Linked DNA regions of Homo sapiens: regions 2 and 3 are each linked to region 1. Evidence: fine-mapped expression QTL. A gene starts in region 1. Each other region holds a variant in brackets. All regions are shown on one strand. Distances are between the middles of the regions. Region 1 holds the start of MTPN (myotrophin). Region 2 has its middle 55 kb from the start of MTPN. Region 3 has its middle 26 kb from the start of MTPN.

Evidence for each region. PIP is the estimated chance that this variant, and not a neighbour inherited with it, causes the effect.
Region 2: its variant is fine-mapped to the expression of MTPN in sun-exposed skin (GTEx, PIP 0.94).
Region 3: its variant is fine-mapped to the expression of MTPN in whole blood (TOPMed, PIP 0.92).

What each region holds. Positions count from the first base shown.
Region 1 is chr7:135,973,919-135,982,105 of GRCh38, forward strand. MTPN (myotrophin) reads right to left here and starts at 3,441. Exons shown (of 4, transcript NM_145808.4): 1 at 3,111-3,441. The coding sequence starts at 3,182. It also overlaps a transcript of LOC105375523 not described here.
Region 2 is chr7:135,918,327-135,926,513 of GRCh38, forward strand. No RefSeq gene overlaps it. Among named protein-coding and RNA genes, the nearest start is that of MTPN, 55 kb to the right of the region's middle. The variant G/C (reference allele first, on the strand shown) is at 4,606.
Region 3 is chr7:135,998,952-136,007,138 of GRCh38, forward strand. It overlaps a transcript of LOC105375523 not described here. Among named protein-coding and RNA genes, the nearest start is that of MTPN, 26 kb to the left of the region's middle. The variant A/T (reference allele first, on the strand shown) is at 4,777.

The DNA of each region.
Region 1 (8,187 bases):
GTGGTCCTTAAGTCAGTCAAGAAGCCAAATGTAGTGTTGAAAGACTTTAAAATTGCTTCAGATATTGTCTTAAAGTTATACATGAAACATTTAATGTAATAATCTAAATTTTTCTCTAAATAATCTAAATTTTTCTCTCAATACTGTCTTTTCCATTTCAAAATACAATTTTCAGTGGTTTGGGGACTGTGAACTGACTTTTCTAAGTTCAAGAACTCACCTAAAACCAATGATTTAGGGATACTCACACTTCGAACTTTAATAGAGAAGTCAGAGGCAGGTAGAAAAGTGTAATTACTGACTTTTAAAAATACTAATTTATAAAGGAAAAACGGGTTCACACCTGTGAACCAGTGCTTTCACACCTGTAATCCCAGTGCTTTGGGAGGCCGAGGCCAGAAGATCGCTTGAGGCTAGGAGTTTGAGACCAGCCTGTACAACAAAGTGAGATCCAGTCTCTACAAAAAATAAAATTTGCTGGGTGTCGTGGTGTACATCTATGGTCCCAGCTGCTCAGGAGGCTGAAGTTACAGTGAGCTATGATCACGACACTGCACTCTAGCCTGGGCGACAAAGCAAAGACCCTGTCTCCGAAAAACAAAAACAAAAAAACCCTGTTTCCAAAAAAAAGAGGAGGAGGAGGGGAATACTAAAATGCTTATCTTACTCTTACAGGTAGATTCTTAGGTTAACAATATGAGAGATCTTCACAGGAATGTTGAGGAGAGTTTTTAAAATAGACTCTCACCCCTGAGAATGAAGACTAGACAGGTCTAAGTGTTTCTTTAGTATTTTCTTTGTACACACCTACTCAGATAGATGCACATTACAGAAACTCAAAAAGTGAGTGTTCACAAATTGGTAGATGAAAAATGTGAGTCAATAAATAAGCAGGGAAGACAGCTGTGGGGCAGAAGAAACTGTAATAAGGACCTGAAAGTATAAATGGGCACCGTAAGGGAGCTGAGTCAGTATAAACTTCAGTTCTTGTTATTATTTCTCATTAACAAAGTGAAAGATACTTTATGAAATCTTCAAAACTAAGAAAGGATAAAGCTCAATGCTCTGTACATCAGATTACATTACAGTTACAGTCATATCTTTTTGGATAGTCCAACTTTCAATACTCCCTTTTGCTTTTTCTGAATGTCTACCCTCCCTCTTATGCAAATTTTTTACATTAATGAAGAACAGGCTACGGTAGTAATATAGGGAAAATAATCAAATTGAACATGATAACCTAACCTAATTATAAAACTAATTGGAAATAAATTAATCCATCTTTATTGGCATATATTTTCATATAAATATTTTTGTGTAGTTGAGAATTCTTTGGGCACAATTTACCTGCCTGAATGTGGACCCTGGGAATGTCCTACTAGAAATCTTGGTATGATACGCTTTCACAATTAGATCTTAGACTGAGAGATAGTGCGTGGAGCAGTTAAAGAGTTTCAGTTTTGGAGTCAGCAATTTAGTTCTTGCTTCACAATTTACCATCTCCATAACTTTTCTTAAGTATCCTGCATCTCAGTAATCTGTAAAATGGGACCAATAATAGGACTTACTTCCCAGTATTCACAAGGATGACATAAAATAATGTGTCAGGAAAACACTAAATACATTGTGTTATTTTGGTAGCTGTAAGTTCAGTTAGTACTTAATCAACTTTTTGTATTTCAAGTATATCAAACAACCTAGGTTCCACCATGACAGGAAAACAAAAGCCCACTTACTTCCAGAGTATTGCAGTGTCCCACCACTGGTAAGTGTACCAAATAATTTCTACCTTTTAGCTTTATATTGAAATAGCCAATAAGTCAAGTTTCAGTTGGCTACCAGCTGAGAAGGCAGTGACGAGAAGACAGCCTGTCCTAAAACTCCACTGCAAAAAACTAAGCAGGTAAGCAGCATCCAAAAAGTCTAAATTGTAATGGCATTAAATAAAGTAAAAACCTTCAGCAGTTTGCCTTGCACAATCCTGTAAGTTTTAAGAAACTGCTTCGCTTACTTGCTTCCTAACACAGCCTCTGAAGCAAAAACCCAGGTCAGGTCCTATTCTTTGAAGAGTTAAAATCTAGACTGGGTTCTCACACTTTTAGAAGGTGAGCAAGATGCCATCCGTGGTTGTCATAAAATTATACTTGTTTTGGAAGATTCATTTTAGATTATCACTAAATTAAAATCACATGTTAAGTTCTCTCATAATTACAAAGGCACAGTTTCAGGATGGAAAGACAGGCTAGCTTGGAATTTTAAGTTTCCCACTCTGCCACAATGTCGATTCAGTTTTATATTTGGGGCTGAGGTTTGAGTTTGTCTTTCTTCATCATGATTTTACCCCCCAAATACACTGCCACTAAACTGCATTGCTATTTACTACACATGTAAGCATTTCAGGTGAAATCAGGGAGAAGAATGGAATAACTGAAGTTAACATGCTTGTTTAAAAACTATTCAGATACCTTAAACATTCCCAGATGCCAGTTGACAACCTTACCACTTGAAGCAAATATGTATTTGTTGTGGTGGGGGAAAGGAAAAAGGCCACACCCAAAGTTAAGACACCACAGTGAAGTGATACTCAGTTTCAGAATTTTAACTATTTCTATTTTCGGTACTCTTTTCACGGTCAATGAATTCTTCAACTTCACACCAGGCCGAGAGTTAAAAAACATGTTCCTCTGATCCTAATTACTTAGGTTACTTCATTTAGTAATGGGTAAGTCCAAGATGGAGAATTACCTCATTCAAAGAAAGGTTTAAGTAACTTTGGTGTAGAAGAGGGCCAAACTCAAATGATCAGTGCGCAGAAGAAACTCTGGATGAGCCAGACACCACTCCTCCCCTCCCCCAAGAGGCCAGGAAGTCAGGTAGCGCCTAACTGTATTAACGCAGCAGTTACCTGACACAGAACGCTACCAAGTTACCTGGACCCTTCTTTCAGTTTAGCTCCTCCCTAGACGCCCCTCTCTCCTTGGTGCCGCCTCCACCCAGGAAGTCTCTCCTCCCGCCCACCCCCATCCCCGCAGTCCAGCTCCCATCAGCTTCCTCAGCCTCATCTCCAGCCCACCTCCGTGTTCTCGCCTACTCTTCTCATCCCCGCTTACCTTGGCCACATAGTCTTTCACCTCATCCAAGTCTCCGTTTTTCAGGGCCCACATGAACTCCTTGTCGCACATCACTGCAGCGGGGCAGGCCGGTTGGCCGGGCAGAAGATGAGGAGGCGGTGGCAGCAGCAAGCGGATGCCGCCGGGCGAGAGGGAGGCAGGGCCGCGCGAAGCCGGAGAGGAGAAGAAGAGAAGGAGGGTTAGGCTGCCAGGCGGGCGAGGCAGTTGGCCGCGGCGACCGTTCGGGCGGGAGAAAGAAAGTTCTTTTGCGGCCACCGGGCCCAGCAGAGAGGTTCCGCCTGGCCGAGGAGAGGCAGGAACCTTTACACTTCCGGTTCACTCCCCGCTAGGACCCTCCCCCAACTTCCTCTTCCTCTTCTCCTCCGCGGAACGCCTCTCTCTGGGTCCGCGGCGCGAACGCCACTAGTGCGCATGCGCAATGTACAGGCTGCCGGGAAGGCTAGAGTGGAGGGTAGGAGCCGGCGACAAGTGGGCGGGACTGGGAGGCAGAATGAAGGAGGCCCGGGGGAGGTCAAGACAGCGAATGGAGGAAGAGTGAGAGTACTTTCGATGGGATTAGGACGCTTCTGCACCACCATTAATGGGAAAAACTTTACTTTTTAAAAAACATAATCTTGGAGGGCATCTTGCTCAGCTTCTAAAAATGTATAGGAAGAGTGTTTAATTTGAATTCCTTCTTCCTTGCCTTTTCCCCTTCCCTCCCTCCTTTTCACCCCTCCCTCTCTCCGTCATCCAGTCTGACTGGGCTAAAAACGATGGAATAACGCTATTCCTGCCCTCCAGGAAATCTTCAACACTAAAACTACAATGTAAATTGAGTGTGTTAACACTATGTATAATGTTCCCTGGAGCAAAAAACTTAAGTGTGTGGCAGGAAAAAAAAAATTAACTCATCTTCCTGACCAGCAAATGACGTCCAGGCATTCAGTTTGATGCCGTAAAGTGGAGCAAACCAAACTGTCTAGTACAATTTGCGTTTTTTAAATTTACTGTTTGTTTTTAATGGTTTGAAACTTCAGGACTGTTCTGGTGAAGTCAGTTCTGTTCTTCCTAGGGTTTAGTTGTAATGCCATAGTGCATAGCTACCACTTGAATTGTTCCTCACAACCCTAATGATCCAGGCATGCGCACATGAACATAGATCCAATAAAAGCTCTTATTGGAGCTAGAAATATACGTATAATATATATACATATATAACTATTACTATATATAAAACTCATATATATAATCTATTATTTGTAACCCACTAAACACATTAACTAAGCTACTTTACCACCATTGCCGTACAGTGTAGGGGTTCCAAACAGACTCTGGAGCCAAATTGTTTAGTTTGCGATACAGGTCCCACTTCTTGCTAATTTTGTGTCTTCTTGGGCAAGTTACTGAACCCCCTTCTGCTTCAGTTTTCCACTTGTGTAAAATGGGGATGTCAATAGTGTTTGGAAATGTATTTTTTTTTTTTTTGCTATCATTTAGAGTAGAATAGCAAATGGGTTTCAAATCAGAAGAAATCCCTCCAAATATTAACATCTACCTAGATTGTCATTTGTTAATTTTACTCCCTGATAATTAGAAATACAAATCCACATACCCAATAGTGATACGATTTCTGGAAACAAATCTCAAGGGGGAATTTGTTAGGCAAGTCCTAGAATCTCCATCTCTTCTCCAACACACTCCCACCTGTGTGATTTCTGAGTTACATCATGCTGAGAGCTCTTGATTTATATCTTTGGCCGGGTGCAGTGGCTCATGCCTGTAATCCTAGCACCTTGGGAGGACAAGGCTGGAAGATCGCTTGAAGCCAGGAGTTGGAGACCAGCCAGGGCAACAAAATGAGACACCATCTCTACAAAACACAAAGATTAAAAAAATTAGTTGGGTACAGTGGCGGACTTCTGCCTTCCCAGCTACTTGGGAAGCTGAGGCAGGAGGATTACTTGAGCCCTGGAGTTTGAGGCCACAGTAAGCTATGATGGCACCACTGCATTCCAGCCTGGGTGACAGAGCAAGATCATCTAAAAAAAAAATCTTTAACTAGACTTTTCCTATGTGATCTATTCTTATATTTAACTTCTTACTCATTTGGATTTCTCAAACTTAACATGTCCAGAATAGGATCTGGTCTCCTGTAGATGTTAAACCTAGTTGTCCCCCACATATCTCTGTAAATGGCGCTGCCAACCACCCTATCACTAAAACCAGAAACATGGGAGTCATAATCACTCTTCCCATTCTCAACTTTTCTCTTATTCAATCCATCAGTAAATATTTCAAAATATGTCTTAAATTTGTTCATTTCTTGCCATCTTCACTATTACTACTCCCTGCACCCTCACATATCCCCCATCCCTGTCACTGTCATCTCTGTCTACACTGCTATGATGCTATGTGCTATGATAGCCTCCCTGTTGGTGTCCTATTTTCACTCATCCTTTTCTAGATAATTCCCCACTTTGGGAGTTACTCTTTTAAAACTTAAACATGCACTTGTTGTCCTAAGGCCTTTCAAAGGCTTCCTATTGCAGGTAGGTTAAAATCCTAACTACTTGATATGGCCTTCAGGGCCTTCTGTGCACTGACTGCTGATGGTAGGTGATAGTATCTCCTATCTCATGACAGTCCCTTGCCACCCCCATTGTTTCTTTGATTTTGAAATATCTTGTCTTCTGTCAGTTTCAAGCTAAACCAAGCTCATTCCACCCTAAGGCCTTTATGCTTCTTGTTTCTTCTCTGGAATGTTCTTCATCTAAGTCTTGTTCACTCCATCTGACTTTTGAGGTTTCAATGCAAACCTTCAGAGAGACCTCCCAGACCACCCACTTTAAATAGGTCCTTCAATTACTTACAGGGCCCAGCTTTTCCCCCATTTACAGCACATGTCACAAGTATTTTAATTATCTTTTTTGTTTACCTATTTTGGTAAGTATTCATGGTGTTAAACAAATAATTCCTTTGTCTGCCATTCTGGGCACAAGAGAGAACTGCTCTTCCTGGCTTGTAGTTGAATAATATCATGTAACTAATTTTGGCCTATTAGTTATGAGCAGACGTGAAATGAGTCACTTCCAGGCTTGTCATTGTAAGACCCTTCAGAACTCTTTCCTTCTACTACAGCAACTAGCAACATGCAAGATAGTGGCTACACAGTCAGTCTGGGTTCCTGTGTAACTACAATGAGCAGAGCTCCCTCACTGTCCTATAATGGATATATAGGATGAATATGAATTTAACTTGTATTGTTTTCAGCCATTGAAATTGTGGTGTTTATTACTAGAGGAACACTGAACCAATCTTGACTAACACAGAAATTAGTGTCAGAATGGGAATGTTACTAGAACAAAACCTTTAAATAAATGGCATTGGCTCAGTGGCTGGGGAGTATACAACAAAGGAAGTGATAGGAGAAGCCGTAAAGATGGTGATTCATACTCACAGGAGTGAAACCTTTGGCAAAACTGTAATAATATGGGGAAGGTCTAGTAGTTCTAGAGGAAAAGGCCAGAAAATGGAAAGCTGGTGGCATGTATCAGTAACTATTGACTATATAAAATACTGTTACTGGTGGAGGGTGTCCAGGTTCTTGGCACTGTGAACAAAGAATTGGACAAAATGCACAAAGCAAGGAAAGAATGAAGCAACAAAAGCAGAGATTTATTGAAAATGAAAGCACACTCTGTAGCGTGGGAACAGGCTGGAGAAAGTGGCTCAAGGACCTGGTTACAGAATTTTCTGGGGTTTAAATACACTCTAGAGGTTTCCTGTTGGTTACTTGGTGTACACCCTATGTAAATGAAGTAGTGGCCCGCAATCAGTCTGATTGGTTGCAGGAGGGGAACAATCAGAGACTGAAGCAAAGTTACAGTTACACCCTATGCAAACGACTAATTGGTTGCAGAAAGTGATGAATCAGAGGCTGAAGTGAAGTTACAAAGTTATACTCCTATGCAAAGGAAGACTTGGCCTGTGACCAGCCTGATTGACTGCAGGAGGGGACCAGTCAGAGGTACTTACAATTTTTTATCTGACACTCAGAAAAGATGGGGGTTGCAAAGGGAGTAGCCTTGAGTCCATTTGTTACTTAGGCATGGGAAGTTGGGGTTTTCCTTTTGATTTAGTTTTAGGAAGTCAGTGTGAATCAGCCTTAGATGATTAAAAAAGATTTAATTAATCTCCGTGCCTCCAGACCCTATTCTCCTGTCTCAATACTACAGGAAATGATGAGTTTAGAAAATAATTGTCCAGCTTGCAGTTAGGAAAGAAAGTGATTATAGGAAGCTATAAACTTGGAGACATGCACGTTTAGAAGATGCAAGTGATTCTCATTATTATTCATTAAAAACAAAACTGAGATGAGCAACAAAGGTTGATTAGAACTCAACCTCTTGGCAAGGATCAAATTACGGGTGTGATAGTCACACCCATGACTAAAACCTCCGAATAGATTAAAGTGGTACCCCATGAATCTTTTCAGTTGAACAACATGGCACAGGTCTTCCCATGACAGAGCTGGATAGATTCAAGGTACCTACAAGAAAGAATTAAAAGAGAAAGTTGTGACTTAGTGCAGTGGAGACACACACAATCATGGTATGTGGAGCTAGCTTGAATCAAATATGGAAGAAGCTGGCTAAATTTTTGAGAGACATGCCAAAATAGCTATCAGTCAAGACTAAAGGAAACTGTAAATAGACTCCAAGTGGGAGTGGGGCTTCAACCTTCTGTGGACAGAGTTGTCTGAGAACGCTGCTCAGACTTTAAGGAGATCACATTTTCCAGTGCTCACTTAAGGACAAGGAGGCCGGGTATAGTGGCTCATGCCTGTAATCCCAGCACTTTGGGAGGTCGAGGCGGGTGAATCACGAGGTCAGGAGTTTGAGACCAGCCTGGCCAACATAGTGAAACCCCATCTCTACTAAAAATACAAAAAATTAGCCGGGCATGGTGGCAGGTGCCTGTAAAATCTCAGCTACTCTGGAGGCTGAGGCAAGAGAATCGCTTGAACTTGGGAGGCGGAAGTTGCAGTGAGCCGAGATCACGCTGCTGCACTCCA
Region 2 (8,187 bases), 56 kb before region 1:
CGGTGGCCGGCCCAAGCACACCTCCTGCGGCCCAGCATCCTGTATTTGGAATCTGCTTCCACACCATCTCCTTTGACATAATGAGCCCACAGCCTTATGAAAGCATACATGTGCTTTCTCGTTCACAAGCAGACAACTTCAGAGGGAAAGAGTGGGAGCAAAATACAGATGTGATTTTTGGCAAAAAGGTTGTCAAGTTCATTCACTACGTGGCAAAACTCTAAACAAAATCCTTCCCTAAAAATGTGTCAGGAAACACGAGGCAATCCTTAACCCAAATAAAGAACTGTGGCAAGAGAAAAATAATAATAAACAAAGATACTTTCTCTTTGTTTAATCCTTTGTAACTTAGCAGGCATATTAAGCAATGTATTTGACTCTCGTAATAAAAATCAAGACTATTTCAGGAAAATGGAAATAAATTTCATCAAATGAGAATGTTCTGGGCCACAGGTATGTGATTTTTAAAAAAACTTCCTAATTTTTAACGAGTGAAACTTCACTTCCTTTTGAAGTTATGCCTTTTCAACTTTCTGAAATAAAGGAGTTTAAACTTTTAAAGGGTAACCTACCTGGGTCATACAACCAAAACATTCTGCATTTGGTTTGGTTATCCTCAGAGAGGAATTCCTTGTTCTCCTCAGCACCATCAAAAACCACAGCAATACTTTTTCCCCTGGCTGTGGTCAAGGGGTGGCAGCTGTCCAGGTTTTAACTAGGGTTTTTATTGATTATTACCATTATGGAAAGAATTGCTAACAATGACATGAAACGAGATTTAAACTCATAGCTATAGAACAAGATGAACTACAGGATTTATGCAATGGTACATTCAAAAAGAAAAGGAAGGAGTGAGAAAAAAATGAAAACCAATCCCTATTACCCCTGTGCTTAGGGAGACGAGGAGATATTGGAAAACACAGCTGCTTGGTGTGATAAAGCCTGGGGACCACGTTCCTGTTCCATAAGATTGCCAAACGCAGGTGCAGCTCTCTTCCTGGATCTGAAGTATTAGTAGGTCGCTGCAGAGACCTGGGAGAGCTGGGCTTCTGTCTCCTATGTGGTCCCATGAGGGCAGTCCAGTTAGAGAGCTCTGGAGTAGAACCCATCAGGGTGGGGACCCGCTGCTGGCCCCTGATGAGTGAGTGCACCACAGCACAGAGAGATGGCTGGGGACCTCACTTCTCAGGCCACCCTGCAGGAGATGCACTAGCAAGGGCAGGCCATTCCCGGAAGGCTTGCTTAACCTTTCCTCTGGTCCCAGTGCTGCTGCTGTCTGCCACCTTCCCTTCTGTCACTCAGCCTGCGTCAATGTTGCAACCCCATAAATTGAAATAGGGAAAAGATCTAACCACGTGGAGCTTAGCTCTCTGAGGCTACAACATTGCATTCAAATGTAAACACTGTGAGAGGCACACACCTGAGTAAGACGTAGGCACTTACACTCCAAGAGCAGGTGGCTCCTCTCTGCCATCCCATCTAGTTTGTCTGTTTCCTTCCAGCATACATCATGACTTGTAATTATTTTATTTACAAATAGATATTTTTTCCCCTCTCCTACTAGGAAATAAGCCCTACGTGGCAGGAGTCATGTCAGAAATGCTGTATTTATTGCAACATCTATAGTGCCCACACGGGGCCTGGCACACATTTAGACACTCCGTGGATATTTCTCTTTCTCTCTCTCTTTTTTTTTTTCGAGACAGAATCTCAGTCTGTTACCCAGGCTGGAGTGCCGTGGTGCAGTCTTGGCTCACTGCAACCTCTGCCTCTCAGGCTCAAGCGATCCTCCCCGCTTGGCCTCCCATGTAGCTGAGACCAAAGGTGCACACCACCATGCCCGGCTAATTTTTTTTATCTTTTATTTTGTAGAGACTGGGCTTCACCATGTTGCCCAGGGTGGTCTTGAACTCCCGGGCTCAAATGATCCACCTGCCTTGGCCTCCCAAAGTGCTGAGATTGCAGGTGTGAGCCACTGCACCCAGCCTTGAATATTTGTTGAATGAATGAGCTTACAATGTAGAGGCTGACTATCCTCACCATCTACCTCCATTAAATGCATTACAAGCTGAAATGGCCCAAGTTCGTTTTGTAGCTGTATTTTTTTGTAGCTGTTTGTTTTGTAGCTGTATATAGTAGAAATTTTGGTTCTCTTTATTATTTATGTTCCACAAATCATGCGTCTCCTTTCCCTGCCCTTAAACTTCTCTCTTCCTTCTCAGTCCTGTACCTGGGGGCAATTGTTAGCTTCTGGGGTGACCATGGGCTAGTGTGGACCTCAAGGGAGCTGCTTTGAAATGACTGCATGGGTCTGGGTTGAGAGAGGAAGTGCTGATATGAAGTGAAAGCATGAAGTGTTAGGGACCCCGTGCTGCTGTACTGTTCGGGACGCCACCTGCATACTCACACCTTGCTGGCCATGGACAAGGCTCACTTGCCTTCTCCTCCTCCAGCAGGAAGGCCAACAGGCTTGTCCTGTGGTTAGCCTGGGACTCTTGGCGAGGATGTCAGCACCGTGGCTTGGCTTTGTTCCACGATGTCCTGCTCCCTCTTTGCACCCCACAACTGCTATTTAAGCCAAAACCTTTTCTCATTATTATAATAATTTGCCTTAAAGTCACTGGCTTGTCAGTTACTTGGCTCATACCAGCTATATTAGTCCATTTTCATACTGCTGATAAAGACATACCTGAGACTGGGTAATTTATAAAGATTAAGAGATTTAATGGAATCACAGTTCCATGTGGCTGAGAAAGCCTTACATCATGGTGAAAGGTGAAAGGCACGTCTTACATGGTGGCAGGCAAGAGAGAATGAGAGTCAAGTGAAAAGGGAAACCCCTTATAAAATCATCAGATCTCATGAGACTTATTCACTACCATGAGAACAATATGGAAACCGCCCCCATGATTCAATTATCTCCCACTGGGTCCCTCCCATAACACATGGGAATTATGGGAGCTACAATTCAAGATGAGATTTGGGTGGGGACACAGCCAAGTCATATCACCAGCAAATCCCTACCAGCCTTTGAATCATCCAGCAGGCAGAAAGAAAAATCTACAAGGATGTGAGAGACTCTATTCTGTCTGGGTAGATAGGGATAAAAAGGATTCCACAGAGAGAAACACGAGAGTTGGTTATTTACAGGACCTAACCATTCCTAGATGGAAGGCAAAGGTTTTTGTTATTTAATCTATTTTTCTTTCCTTCAAGAGTTTAAAGAAAAGGAAATCCTGGGTCCTTAATGGTATTTGCTTGTTATCTCATGGGTATCATTTTTTGGGTCATTTTTAATATTTAGACATATTTTCCTGTCTGTAGGTGATGCTCCTAATTTCTCATCAGACATCCATCAGCTAGGGCACTGTGTCAAGTGTTGCATAAAAAAACTGTGCCTAAATCTGGTGGCTTAAAGTCACCTCTTTGTATTTGTTCATGGTCTGCAGTTTGGACTGAGCTCAGCTGCTGGTTCTCCTTCTGGTCACTCATGCTGCTGCAGTTATCTGGGGATTGACTGAGGCTAGATGGTTCAGGACGGCCCCACTTACATGTCCGGTGGTTAGCTGGGGCTGTTGGCTGGGACACCTCAGTTCTTCATGTGGCCTCTTCTGCAGTGTGACTCCAGACTTCGTTCCATGCTAAGATCCAGGAAGGCAAGCTCTAATGAGGAAGCACTTGTCAAGCTTCTCCCGGCTTCATGTTTGGTGGGCCAAGCAAGTCACACAGCCAAGATCAAGAGTGAATATACAAAGGGATTATGTAAGGACACAGATACCCATAGGCATGATTCACTGGGGACCATTATTGTAACAGTCTACTTCAGGCATAAAGAGTGGTGTGTTATTAATGGGTTTGGCCTTTCATTTGCTTCAACTAACTCATTACATTCTTTCATGATTTTGCTAACCCCTCTGTAACGAGGTGCTGGCCAATCCTTGGGAGTATTTCTCAACCTATGCCTTCTAAACATCTATATCTTGGGGTTGGCAAACTTTTTCTGTGAAGGGCCAGATAATAAATATTGTGGGCTTCATGAACTACATCTGTTGCAGCTGCTCACCTTTGCTGTTGAAGTGTTGGAAGCAGTCATAGGTAATATGTAAGTGAATGAGCATGGCTGCGTTCCAATAAAACTTTATTTACAAAAACAGGCAATGGGCCAGATTCGGCCTGGGGACCATGGTTTGTCAATTCTTGATTATATCACAATTTTCTAGACTGTCAAAAAAATTGTTTATTACACTAAAGTATTGTTACTTCTCAAACTTGAAAATTAAATGTTGTCTTTGTAGAACCTGATTTCATCCAGATCAATGCGTAAGATTTGTAATTGTTTAAAATCATAAGTCCATATAATATTTTCCAAGCATCTTTTAAAGAGTCTTAGAAAAAGCTGTATTCATAGAATAAAATGTAATTAGTTGATTCAGTGAGAGTTGGAGAGGCAATATAAGTGTAGAAAGCACAAACTTTATATCCAGACTGCCTGGCTTTACCACTAACTAGTTGTGTGACCATAAGCAAGTCACTTAACCTCTCATTTTAGTTTGATCATCTAAAAATAGGGATGGCAATATTCCCACCTCATAGGATTATTAGGAA[G/C]ATCAAATGAGTCAGTTCACATAAAATATTTAGAATGGTCCCCAGATAATAGTAAATGTTCAGTTAAAATGGTGAAACTAACATCAAAATGTCATAAAACCCTAACTCCCTTAAGTGATAATTTTAAATAAGAATGTTATATTACAGAGTTTCTAGGTTCATAGTGTTGTGGTCTAATCTCATGAACTATTAACTGAAAAATTACCATAAATTAGTTTTGATCTGAAGACTTTCAAGCCTAATGAAATTTGACTAGCAAATCACAGAGTAGCAGTGACGTAATTAGATTTGGTAGCTTGCCACGGGGGATGTGTATAAACATACAGAACATTATTAGATACTAGGAAGAGGATATAGGTATACAAGACACTTCCAGATTTGTAAGTAAAACCTTAGAAAAATGGGCGTGGTGGCTCACGCCTGTAATCCCAGCACTTTTGGAGGCCGAGGCGGGCGGATCACCTGAGGTCAGGAGTTCGAGACCAGCCTGGCCAACATGGCAAAACCCCGTCTCTACTAAAAATACAAAAATTAGCCAGGTGTGATGGTGGGTGCCTGTAATCCCAGCTACTCAGGAGGCTGAGGCAGGGAGAATCGCATGAACCCGGGAGGCGGAGGTTGCAGTGAGCCAAGATTGCACCACTGCACTCCAGCCTGGGTAACAAAGCAAGACTCTGTCTCAAAAAAAAAAAAAAAAAAAAAAGAAGAAAAATATAGCTTATTTAAAAAAAGTCTATCTAGTAGTATTCTCAAAACCAACATCTGGTGGCTAGGAATTGTCTATGTATTATTTTCCTTTGTGTGACAAGATGCTGTTGCTACGAGTGTTGCCAGACACGTGATCCACTGTTCTATCAAAACAGTGGAAATAAGACCATCCTTGCTGCTTCAGCTGCTGAATCATAGAAGTTGCTGGAGTGGCCAGACAATGCTTTGTTTTGCTTTGTCATGTATAGCTGTGCCTGAGTATGTGTCATGATGTCTCACAGTGACCTGCATTTGACCCACGCTCAGCATTTCCTCAGTGAATTGTTGTGACTCTGTGATATTTGTCTTCACATCATTGATTTCAGTTTGCAATCAATATCAGTAGTACTTATGAGGCTCCATGGTCAATATTTGGGTACATGGACACAGGTAGCCTCATGGCTCTTCTAATAGTCTTTTCTAGGGCAGGATTTACTGAATCAAAGCTGTTTTCACATTTTACTGTATAATGGTTTTACGTCATCATTCAGAACAAACACAGTGAAATGTCTATTGAGGGCCAGGTGCTATTAAAGCTGTTGTTAAATTCTCTCTTCTCAATCAGCAATCATATTTTAAGGAAGTAAAAGCCTTGGAGAAAAATATCCCATGGCTGATGTGTGATGATCTGGCTGGTATCTGGGTAAGATCGTTGACCTGACACAGGACCTAGTTAGTTGGATAGGATGAGTGGCCACCCATAAAGAAAAACGGAGGGCAAAAGCCACTCCACTGTGCAGAGAAATTGGGACACTCCACTCCAGGGAACCTGGCCACCCCAAGGCTGCTGTTTCCAAGCCAGCAGCACACCCACTGCAGTGGGGAATCCATCTTCACAGCACACTGTGACAGCAAACGGGGCATTGGGCTGAGAAAGCAGCCTTTGACTTCCTCCCAGAGTGGCTCTGCCTGCCAGTCCTGCACCCCACAATGACCTGCATATAAAAAGCATGAGACTGCAGTTCATGTCATAGGTCCCAAGAATTCTTTACATGTCTCTCCCAGCCCTCCACTTTTTTTTTTTTCTGAGACAGTTTCATTCTGTTGCCCAGGCTGGAGTGCAGTGGTGCGATCTCGGCTCACTGCAACCTCTGCCTCCTGGGTTCAAGCGATTCTTGTGCCTCACCCTCCCAAGGAGCTGCGTGCGCCATCACACCCAACTAATTTTTGTATTATTGGTAGAGATGGGGTTTTCCCATGTTGGCCAGGCTGGTCTCAAACTCCTGACCTGAAGTGATCTGCCCACCTTGGCCTCCCATAGTGCTGGGATTACAGGCGTGAGCCACTGTGCCTGGCTTCCACCTTCCACTTTACTTTGGAATTCAAGGAAAGGTAAGGTAAGGGTAAGGCTTGAGTCTCAGGAATCCAGCTTTGGGGACATAAGGCGGAAAAACCTCCTAAGAATAACTAAGGGTCATTTTCACCAGTATTACACCTTTGGAACCATTGTTACATTTCACCCTGACTTCTTTTGGCCAGAATATACCTTTGAAACTCATTTTTAAAGATTTTCCTGGACATCTGGAGCTTCAAAACTTGGCCAGTTTTGCTACATTTCACATGTTAAAGGCTTCCATTTACTTTCTCTTTAGGAAGTCATGCCTGATGGCATCTATTTATAGGCTATTTGACTGTTTCTTGCTCTTATGGTCTTATTCAATGGTCCTCAAACTTCAGCACGCATCAGAATCACCTAGAGGGCTTGTTACAACATAGACTGTTGGGTCCAGCCCGAGTTTGATTCAGTAGGTCTTGGCTAGCGTCCAAAAGCTTGCATTTTTATCAAGCTTCCAGGTTATGGCAATGCTGTTGGTGTAGAGACCACATTTTGAGAATCACTGATGCTACAGAAAGAGAAAAAAAAAAATCTTATGGTGGTCTGGTATACTGTGCTGCATGAAAAGTCCTATGACAGCTATTCTCTAATGGCAAACTAATTTCCCTCTAAGCTCCTTCTTTCCACCAGGTGTGTGCCTTCCATCCACATATGCTGGTCTGTTCTTCAATCATTATATAAGGGGACTCTATTCCCTTTAAAATGTATTTAACCAGATTTAAACTTTCTTTACAGACCCCAATTCTTTTTTTCAGAGTGGGTCTCGCTTTGTCGCCTAGACTGGAGTGCAGTGGCACAAACACAGCTCACTCACTGTAGCCTCAAACCTCTCAGTCTCAAGCAATCCTCCCACCTCAGCCTCCCAAGTAGCTGGGTCTACAGGCACTTGCCACCATACCCAGCTAATTGTTTTTTAATTTTTTGTAGAGACTCAGTCTCCCTCTGTTGCCCAGGTTGGTCTCGAACTCCTGGGCTCAAGTGATCTTCCTTGCCTCAGCCTCCCAAAGTGCTGGGATTACAGGCGTGAGCCACTGCGCCGGTCCTAGATTCCAATTCTTAAAATGAGAACTTAAAAAAATTTCTGTAATCACTTCCACCTAAAGCCGTACATGGTCCCCATTTATACTTCAGTCAACAATGTGAAAGTTCTAAAATACAGCTTTTGCTGTAACTTAGTATCTGCACATATATATTTTTTTTCTATCACTAAAAGTAAACTGCAATAGTCTTCTGGTGCTAACAAGATTACAACACAATCAAACTGATTTTGTATTTAATTTTGTTCAGTTTTAAGGTTCAAAGTGATCACTCATCCTGAAAATTACACTCTAAAAAAGTGCTCGTAGTTGAGTTTGGGAAATGCAGATCTCCAAGAAATGTGGAGCAACTTAGATGAGCAATGAAAGGATCAGAGGTTTAACCACGACTCCATTTTCTTCAAGCCCCCTGAAGATCCTGACGATCTGGGATGTGCTGGCTACACCCTGCTCCCCGTCAAC
Region 3 (8,187 bases), 25 kb after region 1:
TATAATGAGAGATATAAATCCTTGCCTTGAGAGAACTTATCTGCAGGAACTTATTGAATTTTTAATATGTGGATTAAAAAATCATGTTCAACAAGGAGAAATCATTAATGGCTATTCTAGTGGACATTTGCTTTTAAAATTATTTTGGCTGTCCAGCGTGGGAATGCTCATCTTATGTTTTGGAAATTACCCTTCCAATGAGTCTTGGAAGGAGGCAGACTTGCCTGTAACCATAGAAGAAGAAAATGCCAAATACCAGCTCTTCAGGCATATCTCTGAGACCTAGCCTTCATCAATGTGATGGAGCAGGCTGAGAAACCAGCAGTGTTCTTACAGCCTACCAGTGATGTGCGCGCTGGAAGAATCACATTCTGTAGGAGCAGCAGCTGGAGGAGGACTGAGTTCCTTAGGGTAGCTGGCCATGTGCAGCATCTGGGACTAGGGGCGTTGGCAGACCAAGGGGACAGAGGGTTCTACCTTGTGATTTTGGGTGTTGTTATCAGCTGCACAACTCCCTGTCCATTTTCCAGTTCTTTCAGTGATTCTGGGAGTCACCCACTATGTTTTTAATAGATTCCATTTTCTGCTTAACTCAGCTGGAGTTGATTTTTTCTTGCCTGCAACTAAGAACCCAGAGTGATACAATCATTAGCTTGTAAGAATTACATTAACAGCCTTAGAAGTGGAAAATTTGTTTTCCAAAAAAAAATTCGGTTATTATAGTAGTGATAACAATAATAATAGCTAACATTTCTTAAGTATGTACTCTGTGCCAGGTGCTGTTCTATAAAATGTTCACCTATTAACTCATTAAATCCTGACAATAATCCTATAAGCAAACTGAGACACAAAGGAGTTCAAGTACACAAATGGTAAAAATGCAGACTTAGGCTTTGAATCTGAGCATTTTGACTTCAGGGCCCATACTTTTTTTTTTTTTTTGAGGTGGGGTCTCTCTCTCTGTTGCCTACACTGGATTGCAGTGGCGTGATCCTAGCTCACTGTAGCCTTGAACTCCTAGGCTCAAGTGATCCTCCCACCTCAGCCTCCTGAGTAGCTAGATAGGACTACAGGTATGAGCCATCATGCCTGGCTATTTTTTTCTATATTTTATTTTTTTTATTTTTAGAGATGAAGTCTTGCTATGTTGCCCAGGCTTGTTCATGCTCTTAACAGTTATCAAGTAAGAATCTGTCTACTTTGCTAAGAAACTTCCTTTTCCATAGCTTTAATATTTTTTTCAGATTTCATTAGGGAAAGAATCTCTATTTCTTCTTTGATAATTTCTAACACAAGACTTTATCTTTCACAGTGAGGAAAAAGGGGCTACACTGGCATAACTCAGCCAGAGTAGAGTAGGGTCTTCATCCTTTCACTCATTCATCCACTCAGCAAATATGTAATAGCTGCCTGGGGTAGGCAGACGCCAGTGATATTTGCCTTCATCCTTTCACTCATTCATCCACTCAGCAAATATGTAATAGCTGCCTGGGGTAGGCAGACGCCAGTGATCTTTGCCTTCTGGTGTTTATGTTGTTGCATCATCCTCTCTCCTTGAGTGTGTGCTGGCCTAGTGACTTGTTTCTAACCAGTAGAATGCAGCAAAGGTGATGAGATATTACTTCTATGATAGTTTACATAAGATTGTAACTCCTCTCTTGCTGTTTCCTTCTTGGCTTGCACACATTGATAAAGCAAGCTGCCACAAAATGAGCTGCTATGTTGGGGTGGCAAAGGACTGGTGGCAGCTTTCAGCCAACAGCCAGCTGGGTGCTGAGGATCTCCTTCCAATAGCCCTTGAAGAACTGACCTCAGCCAACAACCATGTGAGCTTGGAAGCAGATCCTTTCCCAGTTGAGCTTTCAGATGAGATCCCAGCCCTGGCCAATACCTTGATTGCTGATCTGTAAGAGACACTGAAGCAGAGCACATGCCCAGCTAAGCCATGCCCAGGGCTCCCGACCTCACAGAAACTGTGAGATAAGAATTGTGTGGTGTTTTAAGCTGCTACATTTATAGTAATTTGTTATGCAGAAATACATAATGTATGTAGTACTTTTTTGTGTGTGTGGCAGTTTTTCTAGATAGACCAGGTCCCTGACCTCATGGAACTTTTGAAAGAAATGAACATGATAACTTCAGGTAGTTATTAGAGCTTTGAGGAGAATAAAACATGGTGATGCTATAGAGCTATTCTCTCTAATGGGGTAGGCCCTACCCATACACAGGGCTATTTAAATTAAAATGAAATAAAATTAGAAATTCAGTTTCTCAGCCACAGTTACTTGGTTTTAAGAACTCAGTAGCCACATGTGCCTGGCTGGTGGCTACTGCATGGAATAGCACTTGAGAACATTTCCATCATCACAGGAAGTTCTACCATGCAGAGCTATTGCAGAGAATGACTTGAGGAATGAGTGGCTTCTCTAAAATGAGAAGCCAGGGGCCAGGTGCAGTGGCTCACACCTGTAATCCAGACACTTTGAGAGGCTGAGGAGAGTGGATCACTTGAGATCAGGGGTTTGAGACCAGCCTGGTCAACATGGTGAAACGCTGTCTCTACTAAAAATACAAAAATTATCTAGGTGTGGTGATGGGCACCTATAATCCCAGCTACTTGGGAGGCTGAGGCAGGAGAATCACTTGAACCTGGGAGGTGGAGGTTGCAGTGAGCTGAGATCTCACCAGTGCACTCCAGCCTGGGTGACAGAGTGAGACTCTGTCTCAAAAAAATTTAAAAAAGATGAAAAAAAAATGAGAAGGTAGGGAAGGCTTCTCTGAAGGGGAATTATTTGAGGCAAGACCTAAACGATAAGAAAAAGCCAGACTTTCCAAGCACAGCTGCATTGTAAATTAAAAATAAATAAAATAAAGAAAAAGTCAGACCTGCAAAGATCTGGAGACGGGATGTGCTTGGCAGAGGGAACAAGATGCATGAAGATGTACGGCAAAAACCCTCAGGGTGTATTTGAAGACAGTATGGTTGGAACTTAGGTGACACAGGAGAAGAGGAATAGCAGTGATGCAGGAATGGGAAGCTAAGGGGCCAGGTGGTGTAGGTTCTTGGGTCCAGGTTAAGGGTCTTGAGTTGTACTCCATGTACGATGGGAGGTCACTGGAGGTTTTAAGCACAGGAGTAACGTTATGCTATTTATGTTTATGTTCTCAACAGATCACTTTTTCTGGTATTTGAGTAGATTGTTGGAGGTAATATTCAACAAGCGACTGCTTTTTTGGGAAAATATATTGATCATTTAGAAGACTATTTCAGTAGCCCAGGCTGACCTGGGCAGTGGCCATTGAGTTAGAGAAATAGACAGATAAATGATCTATTTTAGATGTGTGACTGGCAAGACTTGATACATTGGATGCAAGAGGGCAGGAGAAAGGGAGGAATCAAAGATTATATCTACAATTTTGATTTGAACAAAAGGTTGGATGGTGATAGGAAGAGGAAAGACTGGGAGAAGTACAGGTTTGGAGGGCAAAAGTGAAGGGTTCTCTTCCAGTTGTGTTAAATCTGAGATGCCTTTTAGATACCCAAGTAGTCAGGTAAAGTAGGCCATTGGATATGCACCCAGAGTGCAGAAAGGTCACAGCTGGAGATATAAACTGGGAGTCGTTGGGTTACAAATGCCACATAAAGCCATGGGACTGAAGGACATTTCCAGGGAAAGCACAGAGATGGAAGTGAGTCTGAGGGCTCTGTTGGAAAAGGAGGGAGAAAACAGAAGAACATTGTGTATACCACATAATCTTTCTCTCCCTTGAACCTCATTATTCCATAAAGAACTGGGTTAGTATTAAAAAGATCAACTCCTAGGATGGAGCTCAGCTAGGCTTTTGTATAGCAATAGCTGTCTGGTATTTAAAACACAAAACTGGGGCCTGGAGGTGGTATAGAAGGGAGAGGAATTAAACTGCAAGTAAACTCCAAACCATGTACCATGGAGGCCTAGAAGGGTCATCTCTTCAACCCCATCTGTGTCTCTTCATCCCTGATTCCTCAGGTTCTAGCCACAGTGGTGTTTCAGGTGCTCAAATATGCTAATCTTTCTACCTCAGGACCTTTGCACAAACGTCTTCCTTTGGCTGCTTCTTTTTCTCCCCCTTTCTTGGCCACTTGAACTCTAGCAAGTCTCTCTTGTTTTTCTGTCTCAGGAATTTTTATTGTTTCCTATATGGTTCTCATTACAATTTACATTCTTTCAACTTTTGGCTGCCTCTCCTAATAGAATTGCAGTTTTCACAAATGAAGAAATGATTTATGTATTTTTTTAACCTGTTAAAATCCTTTGTGCTTGGGGATAAATACTTGTTAGATGCATGACCTCACTGCCTGGGGATGAATATGGTTGTGTGAGTGAACTTATTCATTGAGTGTTAGACACTATAAGTTGTGTAAGTGGGTTTGTCTTATTTAAGCCTCTCAGTTCTGTGGTATAGATATTTTTATACCCATTTTACAGATGAAATGATAGGTTGAGTAACTTGGTAAAATTCACACACCTGGTAAGTACTAATAGCAGAAGCAGCATTTGAAGCCAGAGCCAGGTATTCTAAAGTACGTATACTAGAAGGGAACGGGAATATGAGGGCAAGCTCGGAGATGCAAATGGAATAATAGGCCATACGAGAAGACTCACTGCCACCCAAGTCCAAGGGGACTGCTGATTTAAAGAAATCAGGGCAAAGGCAGAGTTTCAAAGGGGCAGTGTTGTGGTGGTGAAGCATGAGATGTGGGTATATTGTTCAACAGAGCGGTTCAAGAACAGG[A/T]TGGGGAAGAGTGGGAAACAGGCCTTTTCTTGGAGATAGGGCACAAAAGAATCAGACAACTAAGTCAGTACTAGTTCATTGACTGTGGTAACCAGGCCACTTCTTTCTGCCACCCGGGAAAAATAGAGGAACTATGAGCATTAAGAAATCTGGTAGATAGGCCCGAGATTTTTAGGGGGTAGTCATCTTTCATGCATTTATATCATTTATTATCATATATTTGTAAGATTATTTGATTAACATTTGTCTCTCTGTAGATTTCATAAGGGCTATTTATTATTTTTTGCTTCACTCACTGTTGTATAATAACACCTGGCCGAACAGCATTAATAGAGATCAGTAAATATTTTATGAATGAATAATAGACAAATGATAGTAATAATAGGAAACACAGTGCACATATGCTATGCTCAAGGAATTGTTTAAACACTTTACACATATTAACTCAGTCCGTTCTTACAATAACTCTATGAGATGGGTACAATTATTTTCTGTATTTTATAGATGTGGAAACTGAGGCACAGAGAGGTTAAGTCAGTCATCCAAGGTCACACAGCGAGTCAGTGGCAGAGCTGGAATGGAACATTGTTCTGGAGACCATGCTTTTACCATTTTGCTACACCACCTGTGAACAAATGAACACATGCACAGATGGCTGTTCTAAGGGCCACTTGGCGTCTCTGCTTTTGGACAGAGACCATTCTAAGACTATTTCAAAGCCAGAATTTTCTTTTAAAGATGAAGATTGCTAATATCCTGTCTGTCTTGTCTTTTATAAGATCTATAAAGGGAACCGTTGGCCCGCAGAGAATTGGATGCATAAGGTAACCAGCTGAAATGCAGCAGGACAGAATAGAGACTGGCGGGAGGGGGACACAGCAAATAACAGCTGACTTTGGAGTAAGGAAATTCCAAGATTAGAACTTAGTACCAGTGTAAAGGCAGAGGAAATGGAAATGGAGGCCCCCTCAATTGTAAGTCAGACATGTAGAGCTGGGAAGGGCTTTGCAGGAGTAAATGGAATAGCATTTCCTAAACACGCAGGTTTTTTTTTCTTCAGACATAAAGTTAAAAAGGTACGGAATGAGAGAAATTCAGTTTTAAGTTAGCATCAGAATGAACACATATGTACTTTGTTTCTTGGTTATAAAAAAGAAAACTTTGGAATAAAATCTATTTTTAAATGTTATAATAACTGGCCAGGCATGGTGGCTCACGCCTGTAATTCCAGCACTTTGGGAAGCCAAGGCAGGTGAATCACTTGAAGCCAGGAGTTCGAGACCAGCCTGGCCAACATGGCAAAACCCTGTCTCTACTAAAAATGCAAAAAATTAGCCAGATGTGGTGGTGCACACCTGTAGTCCCAGCTACCAAGGAGGCTGAAGCAGGAGAATTGCTTGAGCCTGGGAGGTGGAGGTTGCAGTGAGCCAAGATTGCAGCACTGCACTCCAGCCTGGGTGACAGAGTGAGACTCCATCTCAAAAAACAATAAAATAAAATAAAATAAAATAAAATGTTATAATAACAGAGTACGTGTAACTATATATAGAAATACTATGAAATGTGATTGTTAATTTTATTGCAATACTAGACTGTTGTGTTCATTATAGGAAAGAATGATCGAGTTTGAGGTGTAATGCTTTTAAAAATTCATTTTCCTTTTTCTATGACTATGCTTCCATTTCCCAATCTATTACTGATACTGAGAGTTTTAGCTGACTGAGGCCATTTAAAATAATATAATTTAGTCTTCCACCTTACTCTGAAACCCACACTGAAAACAAATATTTCTTAAAAAGCAATTACATTTATGTGCTTATTACCTGCCACATATATATTATAAAAGTTGATTGCTTTATGTAAGAGAAGTTAATCTGAAATCATTCTTAGCTAAATGTAATATTCTCTGTACTTGTTAAAACAAGCAAAATAAAATGGCAGGAGCAATATAGTTTAAGCATTTTTTTATTGTATGTTTGGCAAACTATGAAAATTAACATTTGGAAATTCTTTTGCTCTATTGAAACCTTGTTATTGCCTAGCCATGATAAAGGTAGAAATATGAAAATATTCTAGATTGTTACATTTTATGACTAAAGTACAAAATTATAGAAATAAATAGAAAGGTACACTTTGGGAGGCCGAGGCAGGTGGATCACAAGGTCAGGAGATCGAGACCATCCTGGCTAACACGATGAAACCCCGTCTCTACTAAAAATAAAAAAAAATAAAAAAAAATTAGCCAGGCGTGGTGGCAGGCGCCTGTAGTCCCAGCTACTCGGGAGGCTGAAGCAGGAGAATGGCGGGTGAACCCAGGAGGCGGAGCTTGCAGTGAGCTGAGATCGTGCCACTGCACTCCAGCCTGGGCGACAGAGCAAGACTCCGTCTCAAAAAAAAAAAGAAAGAAATAGAAAGGTAATAATAATAACAATATTTGTAGAGAATTTTGTAAAATATTTTTCACATCTGATATGGTTTGGCTGTGTCCTCACCCAAATCTCATCTTGAATTGTGGCTCCCATAATTCCCATGTGTTGTGGGAAGGACCCCATGGGAGGTAATTGAGTCATGAGGGGGGGTCTTTCTTGTGCTGTTCTCCTGATAGTGAATAGGTCTCACTAGATCTGATGGTTTTATAAAGAGGAGTTTCCTGCACATGCTCTCTCATTTCCCTCTTGCCTGCCACCATGTAAGACATGCCTTCCACCCGCCGCCATGATTGTGAGACCTCCCTCGTGGAACTGTGAGTCCACTAAACCTCTTTTTCTTTATAAATTACCCAGTCTTGGGTATGTCTTTATCAGCAGCATAAAAATGGACTAATACAACATATATTATTCTTATTTAATATGTAGAACAGCTTCAGGGAGTTGGTAATATTATTTTTATCCCAGAGTTGAGGGAGTAGAGTTTCAGAGAATAACATATGCACAGTAGTATCTGGTGAGGTTGAAGTTTTTTGACTTCAGCTCTGTAAAATTTCATTGCATGAAACCACCACTGTGCAGGAAAACTAATGGATTTGGATCTCAATATTGATTTTAAGGAGATTTTAGGATTTTCAAAAATAAATGTTAAGAAAGTGGGTATTTATATTTGGTTTGGTGTTTAAGGGAATTGTCAAAAGTGGAAAAGAGTCCTTTCCACCCCAGATAGTTTTTATTCTTTCCAGGTAGAAGACACAGAGCATCATCCAGATCCTCTCTTCCTTAGTGAGAGGCACACTCTGTAAAGAGTGGTGTTCAGCAGAAACTGTAGAGGCAGACCCGGAATCAAATCCCAGTTCTGCCATCTCTTCTTAGCTAAGTGGCCTTGGGTGAGTGAATTCACTTCTCTAAAACTCAGTTTCTTCATCTGAAGAATGCAGATCAGTAAAGTACCTATGTGAAAAGATTTGTTACAAACACAAAA